Regions from separate parts of the Homo sapiens genome. Here region 2 is linked to region 1. The links come from fine-mapping of genetic effects on gene expression. A gene starts in region 1. The other region holds a variant in brackets. All regions are shown on one strand. Distances are between the middles of the regions.

Evidence for each region. PIP is the estimated chance that this variant, and not a neighbour inherited with it, causes the effect.
Region 2: its variant is fine-mapped to the expression of LIPA in whole blood (TOPMed, PIP above 0.99). The same link has a PIP of 0.9 or more in platelets.

The regions. Positions count from the first base shown.
Region 1 is chr10:89,249,851-89,254,251 of GRCh38, reverse strand. LIPA (lipase A, lysosomal acid type) reads left to right here and starts at 2,477. Exons shown (of 10, transcript NM_000235.4): 1 at 2,477-2,515. RefSeq lists an enhancer at 2,391-2,450.
Region 2 is chr10:89,225,549-89,229,949 of GRCh38, reverse strand. LIPA (lipase A, lysosomal acid type) reads left to right here. Exons shown (of 10, transcript NM_000235.4): 4 at 1,552-1,750; 5 at 2,946-3,055. Among named protein-coding and RNA genes, the nearest start is that of CH25H, 20 kb to the right of the region's middle. The variant GTT/T (reference allele first, on the strand shown) is at 2,849.

The DNA of each region.
Region 1 (4,401 bases):
ATGTCCAGGCAGAAGTTTGCTGCAGGGGTGGGGCCCTCAAGGAGAGCCTGGGCTAGGTCAGTGCAGAAGGGAAATGTGGGATTGGAGGCCTCACACAGAGTCCCCAATGGGGCACTGCCTAGTGCAGCTGTGAGAAGAGAGCCACTGTCCTCCAGACCCCAGAATGGTAGATCCACCGATAGCTTGCACTGTGCACCTGGGAAAGCTACAGACACTCAACACCAGCCTGTGAAAGGAGCCAGGAGGAAGGGTCCCCCTGCAAAGCCACAGGGGCAGAGCTGCCCAAGACCATGGGAACCCACCTCCTGCATCAGTGTGACCTGGATGTGAGACATGGAGTCAAAGGAGATCATTTTGGAGCTTTAAGAAATGACTGCCTTGATGGATCTGGACTTGCATGCGGCTTTTAGCTCCTTCATTTTGGCCAGTTTCTCCCATTTGAAACAGGTGTATTTATCCAATGCCTGTACCCCCATTGTATCTAAGAAGCAACTAACTTGCTTTTGATTTTACCAGCTAATAGGTGGAAGGGACTTGCCTTGTCTCAGGTGAGACTTTGGACTATGGACTTTTGAGTTAATGCTGAAATGAGTTAAGACTTTGGGGGACTACTGGGAAGGCATGATTGGTTTTGAAATGTGAGGACATGAGATTTGGGAGTGGCCAAGGGCAGAATGATATGGTTTGGCTGTGTCCCCACCCAAATCTCATCTTGAATTATAGCTCCTGTAATTCCCACATGTTGTGGGAGGGACCCGGTGGGAGATAACTGAATCATGGGGGCAGTCTAGCCCATACTGTTCTTGTGGTGGTAAATAAGTCTCACAAGGTCTGATGGTTTTATAAGAGGAAAATCCTTTTACTTGGTTCTTTCTCTCACATGTGCCGCCATGTAAGACAAGCCTTTTGCCTTCTGCCATGATTGTGAGGCCTCCCCAGTCCTGTGAAACTGTGAGTCAGTTAAACCTTTTTCCTTCATAAATTACCCAGTCTTGGGTATGTCTTTATTAGCAGCATGAGAACAGACTAATACACCTTCTAATTAGTCTCCCTGCTTCTGTAGTTCAGAATGATCTTTCTAAACTAGATTATGCTGCCCTTCTATTGAAAATATTACACTGGCTTCTCATCTTACTCAGAAGACACGGTAAGATCTTGACAAGTGGCTCCCAAGGCACCAGACTTCTAGGACTTCATGTTCTATTACTTTCTACTATGTACATTCTGTTTTAGCCTCAAAGACCTCACCACTCTGGCTAGGACCCACCAGGAATATTCCTACCACAGGGCCTTTGTACCTGCTATTTTCACCCAGAATGTGCTTTCTCCAGTATCTAAGGCTGTTAACTACCTCCTTGCCTGTGCTCAGGTGTCACTTCATAAGAGTCCTTTCCTGATTACCATATACATATCATCCTCCTTATCCCTGTTTTTTTTTTTTTTTGGGGGATGGAGTCTCACTCTGTTGTCCATGCTGGAGTGCAGTGGCATGATCTCCGCTCACTGCAACCTCCACCTACCTGGTTCAAGCCATTTTCCTGCCTCAGCCTCCCAAGGAGCTGGGATTAGAGGCACACACCACCACACCCGCTAATTTTGTATTTTTAGTAGAGATGGGGTTTCACCAAGTTGGCCAGGCTGGTCCTGAACTCCTGTCCTCAGGTGATCCGCCCTCCTCAGCTTCCCAAACTGCTGGGATTACAGGCGTGAGCCACTGTGCCCAGCCCCTTGTTGTTTGTTGTTGTTGTTGTTTGTTTGTTTTTGTTGTTATTTATAGCACTTATCACCACCTCATGTATTATATAGTTATTCATGATGTGTCTCTTCCCATCAGAATATATACAAGAGAACAGGAACCTTGTTTGGTTGGTTTCTATACCTCCACTGTCTTACTAATGCCTGGCATTTAGTAGGTGCTCAATAAAATCTTTGTTTTAGAAAATGATTAATAAATAATATGTACATATTGAATATTGTTTCCTCTTTTAACAAATCTTTAATAATAATAAAAAATTTAAAGCAGCAAGATTGCTTTGCATCAGGCACAATGATAAGCGCTTTAAATGGAGCCCATGATTCACTTTCATTTATAGAGCCCACATGCTCTCTGTCAGGCGCAGAAGGTGCCAGCCCTGCAGGAGCTTCGGGGGCGGAGCAGAAGGCCGCCTAAAACAGCCTTTGCTAAGAGAGCATGCGTAGGCGACGCGCTGGTAGAGCTGTGGACCTGCCAGCCTGCGAGGCGGAGGACGGGCTCCATCTCTTAGAAACGCCTACGGCGCATGCTCTATGGGGTCAACTGGGGGGCTGGCAAGCGGCAGCGCTGGTCTGGGGCGGAGTCTCCGAGGCACTTCCCGGTGGCTGGCTGCTCTGATTGGCTGAACAAATAGTCCGAGGGTGGTGGGCATCCGCCCTCCCGACAAGGCAGACCAGGCCCCCTGCAGGTCCCCTATCCGCACCCCGGCCCCTGAGAGCTGGCACTGCGACTCGAGACAGCGGCCCGGCAGGACAGCTCCAGGTGAGAGTGCCGGCGCCGCGGCGCTGCCAGGTGCGGGTGCGGCGTGGAAGCTGGTGCCTTCAGCAAGGGGAGGGTCGCGCCCCGAGGCTCTGCCGGCCGGCAAGACCCTCTGCGTTTGGACCCAGCGAGTCTTGCCTGGGGTGCCTGCGGGTGCTTTTTCTGCGGGCGTTGGCTCAAGGCATCTGCCAATCAACCAGGGCAACTTCAGAGAGCAACTTCAGAGAGAAGCCCACTCTCTTCCCTGGGCGCTGTCCACTTTCCTGGACAGGCGCGGTCTCCGGTCAGTGAAGCTGCCCAGTGCTCCTGGACCGCGAGGACAGCAGGGATGTCTGATTCCTCTCTCTGCATCCTCGTGCTCTCCCCTTAGCTCCTCCAGGCATCCCATCCTACCTCTCTTGTTAGCCAACGGCGTGGTCGAAAGCAGACTTGGGCATCAATCCTGGTTAAAGTCCCAGCGATACTGCTTTTTAAACAGCTGACACTTTGCTTCCAGTACTTCAGCTGGGTGAACCTCAGATTCCTGAAAAATGGAATTAATGGTACTGCCATAGGGTCGGTGGAGGAGTAATTGACAGTAGATCAGAAGCGCTGCCTGCGGTGGCTGGCGCCTCGCAAGAGCTTAAATGGGAGTCGTAATAATTGTTGTTATTAGAAAGTTAAATAGCATGCTGCGTTGGGGCCTTTTCTTCTGCCACTGAACTGTTGGACTGCTCTTATCTTTTTTCAGAATCTGTACTATGCATCTAATATATACGTGGCACTTTGCTTGGTCCTGGGGGTACAAAGCTGAGTCAGATTGTTACAAAGTCTAAATAACTGAGATAAAGGTGTTAATACAGCCCAGAAAAGCACACTTAATTCAGCCTGGAAGGTTTTTTTTCCCCCCTCCTTCGAGATTTTCAGAGTATCTCCTTCTTAGTAAGAATTGCTTGGCTTAGTATGTTGAGAAAAACATACTAAGTATGTAGTGTTGTGTTGGAAGGAAAACTTAACTGGGTGAGATTTTCAGCTGAGTAGCTTTAGCTGTTACTCTCATGGACCTTCCTCTGGGCGGTTGATACAGGTTCTGTAGGAAAACCGCTGAATGAAAGCAGCTCCTGCAGATGCTATTCTGTTTTCAATTGTGGTAATTCCTTTAATTTTTTCCCTTTCAATTTACTCCTTATTCTCTAGTAATAATGGACTTTTGGGAGGTTGCATTTATGATAAAAAATAGCCTGGGGCTGTACAATCCTTCCTATCATGAAGAAGTACAAAGTTGTAAGTAGAAGCAGTGGCCTTGCTTTGCCAATGCACACTGAAGGGGATAACGTTTGCTCCTGTTCAGAGTTCACGGTCGGGCGCGGTGGCTCACGCCTGTAATCCTAGCACTTTTGGAGGCCGAGGCCGGCGGATCACGAGGTCAGGAGATCGAGACCATCCTGGCTAACACGGTGAAACCCTGTTTCTACTAAAAATACAAAAACAAAATTAGCCAGGCGTGGTGGTGGGCGCCTGTAGTCCCAGCTACTTGGGAGGCTGAGGCGGGAGAATGGCCTGAACCCAGGAGGTGGAGCTTGCAGTGAGCCAAGATCTCGCCACTGTACTCCAGCCTGGGGGACAGAGCAAGACTGTCTCAAAAAAAAAAAAGAAAGAAAAGAAAAGAAAAAGAAAAAGAAAAAAGAAAAAAGAAAAGAATTTCAGAGTTCACTACTTCTTGGAAAAAAATAATCCCAGGAGGAATTCCATCAACAGAAGGGAGTCAGTTCACTTTTGCAATCTCCTGAGAATCAATTTCTTAAGACTTGTGGAATATTCAGTTTAAACACAAAACTAAAAACAAACAGCTGTATTGGAGTATTATTGACATACAATAGCATGGCATATTTCAATTGTACAATTGTATA
Region 2 (4,401 bases), 24 kb after region 1:
TTTTATTTTTTAAAGCAGTTTTAAGTTCATAGCAAAATTGAGTGGAAGGTACAGAGATTTCCCATACACCCTCTGCCCCCACACTCCCCTGTTATGAACATCCCTCACAGAGTGGAATTGTAATTGTTACAGCTGATGAACCTACATTCACACAAAGTCCGTAGTTTACATTAGGGTTCCCTTTTTTTTTTTTTTTTGAGACTGAGTCTCCCTCTGTCCCCTAGGCTGGAGTGCAGCAGTGCAATCTTGGCTCACTGCAACCTCTGCCTCCCGGGTTCAAGCAATTCTCCTGCCTCAGCTTCCTGAATAGCTGGGATTACAGGTGTGGGGCACCACACCCAGCTACCTTTTTTGTATTTTTAGTAGAGACAGGGTTTCGCCATGTTGGCCAGGCTAGTCTCGAACTACTGACCTCAAGTGATCCACTCGCCTCAGCCTCCCAAAGTGCTGGGATTGCAGGCATGAACCACCACACCCGGCCACTACAGTTCACTCTTGATGTTGTATATTCTATAGTTTTGGACAAATGTATGATGGCATGTGTCTACCTCTATAGTATCATGCAGAGTAGTCTTACTGCCCTGAAAAATCCTCTTTACTCTGTCTATGAATTCCTTCCTCCCTCCTAACCCCTGGCAACCAGGATCTTTTTTACTCTCTCTATAGTTTTGTCTTTTCCAGCATGTCATATAGAATGCAGCCTTTACAGATCTTGGTAATATGTATTTAAGGTTCCTCTACATCTTTTTGTGGCTTGATAGCTCATTTCCTTTTAGGGCTGAGTAATACTCCATTGTCTGGATGTAGCACAGTTTAGTTATGCATTCATTTACTGGAGCACATCTTGGTTGCTTCTAAATTTTGGCAATTATGAGTAAAACTACTATAGACATCTGTATGCAGGTTTTTGTGTAGATGTAAGTTTTCAACTCCTTTGGGTAAAATACCAAGGAATGTGATTGCTGGATTATATGGTAAGAGTATGTTTAGTTTTGTAAGAAACTGCCAAACTTTTCCAGTGTGGTGCTACCAGTTTGCATTTCCACCAGCAATGAATGAGAGTTCCTGTTCCTCCACATCCTCTTCAGCAGTTGGTGTTTTCAGCGTTTTTGGATGTTGCTCATTCTGATACGTGTATAGTGATGTCTCATTATGTGTGATCTTTTTCTTTCCTTTTGTTTATTTTGTTAGGAATTATTGTGAGAAATGCAATTACGAAAGCAAATTGTAAAAACATTTTATAAGAAAAAAATTGTAAAAACATTTTATAATTTCTTAAAAATATATTGATTTTTGTTTTTGCTGCTTACATAAGTGTGTCTTGTTAGTGGACATGCAAAAAATGGTCCAGTTTCACTGCTACCTTGCCAGTGCTGTTTTAAAAAAATTCTTTACTAACATTATATGTGAGTACATCACTATGTCAATCTTTCAATTTATTTCTAGTTCATTATTTGCTTATGGATCTTTTACGAATGTTCTATTTAGCAAGATATCATATTTGTTTTGAAGCTTGGTGCTACTGCCTCCTAAACAATGAATGTTTTTCAGGTCCCAAACCAGTTGTCTTCCTGCAACATGGCTTGCTGGCAGATTCTAGTAACTGGGTCACAAACCTTGCCAACAGCAGCCTGGGCTTCATTCTTGCTGATGCTGGTTTTGACGTGTGGATGGGCAACAGCAGAGGAAATACCTGGTCTCGGAAACATAAGACACTCTCAGTTTCTCAGGATGAATTCTGGGCTTTCAGGTATATATGAATTGATAATGGCATGGATGTATTTCCTTAGTACTCTTAAAGCAGACAACAGGCTTCCAGCAGAAGAGGTAGATAGGTGGTAACTCTGAAGTTGTATGAGAGGGGAAGTTAGTGTCTTTTGAAAGGTTTTAAATGTTGCTAGGAATTTAATGACTAGCAGTAAGGTAAATTATAAGTAAATGATTACATTAAGATTTACATTTAGTTAGGAATTCTTAAGTTACTTCGGCATTTCTGGTGGTGTGGGTGCTGCTGGGTAAACGTTATTCCATAACTTTCCTCCTTTCTCCATAAATATGTAATCCAGATGTTCACTTTTCTTCTTTCCAGAAATTATCCTTTCCTCCCTCTTCCTTCTGGCTCCACCAGTTAATTGCTGTATGACATTGGACATCTTACATAAGCCTCCTGTGTCTCGGTTTCCTTATTTGTAAAATGGAGCGTAATAAACACCTACCTCATAAGGTCACTGGGGGCTTAAAGGAGAGGGTGCAGAGAAGGAACCTCCACAGAACCTGGCACCTTGTATGAACTGGCTAGGGGTTGGCTCTTCTCCTGCCAGTGGCAACATGCGCATGCATATACCCATACGCACACTTGGGTTTTGGTCTATGTTTTGGTACCAGGTATTAGAGAAAGTCAGCAGCACTATAGCAGCCTCCGGGCTTGCTTCCCATTTTTAAAACCAGAGGCACCTCTAAGGACATGAAACACAAGAATGAGAGCTTTTAACAAAAGGCATATACAAGAATTGGTTTATTGTCACGCTATTTGTAACAACGGAAAACAGGAAACTACCCAAATGCATGTCAGCAGTGAATGGATAAAGTGTTGTATATTTATATAGTAGAATAAGAATGAACAACTTACAATTATATGCAGCAAAAAATGGATTAAGCCAGATACAGGAGAATACACATTGTATAATTCTACTTACAGAAATATTTAAAAACAGGCGAAACTAATTTCTGGTGTGAAAAATGAGGACAATAGTTACTTTTGGGAGACACAACTGGAAGAGAGCCCAAGGGGGCTTCTGCAGTCCTGCTGGTGTTGTTTCCTGGACTCACTGCTGGTTTTCCCAGCTGT[GTT/T]TAGTTTGTGATAACTCATCAAACTGCATACTCAGTATGTGTGTGCTCTATTTTATGTACTATTTCAATGAAAGAGTTCCTTTCTTGGATTACAGTTATGATGAGATGGCAAAATATGACCTACCAGCTTCCATTAACTTCATTCTGAATAAAACTGGCCAAGAACAAGTGTATTATGTGGGTCATTCTCAAGGCACCACTATAGGTATGTATGTAAATAAGATCAGAAGTTGATATAAATTCTTCATTACAGAGTTTGTACTTTTCTTAAAAGTGAAATATAAAAAGATGTTAGTTCAAATTCCATTTATTTTTAAATGCCAAACAGAAATAATGAATAAGATAAGGAATGTTGGTAACATTTAGTCTTCTATGAAAATTCATGTATATGGTTGAAATTGAAGAAATTAATGTAAGCCACAATATATTACATGTTTTCCTAGATGAAGCAAGATAGGGATGTGAGAGAGTAGAAAACAAGTAGTTTCTAAGTTCAGAGACTTACATAAAGAAAACAAGAAAATATACTGCCTTCTGAAGTTAAGTGGAATATAACTAACTACAGGTACATTTGGTTTACAAAAAATTTTGAAAAGTTATATGCATTTTAATTTATGCTGATTATATAAGTAATGCATGTTCACTGTAGAAAAACAGAAGAACAGAAGATTTAGCAAAATTAAAGAAAATAAAAATTGCCCATAATTCTAGTCAGCAAGAGTTTTTGTAATTAGGGACTAGGAACCTGTCCTATAATTTATTTAATTCTCCCTTTTAATGTTTACTATGACTAACACCTTAGTGTTCCCATCACATGCTTTCCTTACAATATATTCCTAGAAGGAGCCTTACTATATGAAAGGTATGAATGTTTTGAAGGGTCTCAAAACATGTGGTTATATTGCCAGGAAAAAAATGGAGTTAGGCATTTTTCTTTATTTATATTTCTTCTTTCATGACTTGCCTGCTTGGGACCTTTGCCCCACTGCTTCCTAAAGTGACATTCTGGGGCCAGGTGGCAAGACGTCAGAGAGGGTTGTATTAATTCGTTTTCATGCCACTACTAAAGACATACCCGAGACTGGGCAATTTATAAAGAAAAAGAGGTTTAATGGACTCACAGTTTAATGGATTGTGAGCTAGGGAGGCCTTACAATAATGACGGAAGAGCAAGGAACATCTTACATGGTGGCAGACAAGAGAGAGTGAGAGCCAAGTGAGGGAGTTTCCCCTTATAAAACCATCAAATCTCAAGAGACTTACTCACTACCACAAGAACAGTATGGGGGGAACCGCCTCCGTGATTCAATTATCTCCCACCAGGTCCCTCCCACAACACATGGGAATTATGGGAACTACAATTAAAGATGAGATTTGGGTGGGAACACACCCAAACCATATCAAGGGTTAAAATATATTTTAAAGCTAGGGGATTCTAAATGTGTGAGTTCCTTTGAAATCATTGGTGGTTTATTTCAACGTGGTGTCTGTAAATTGTTCTTTGGGGGAGGGGCATGGGGGAGATAAAGGTGATGGGGTGAGGCTCTTGGA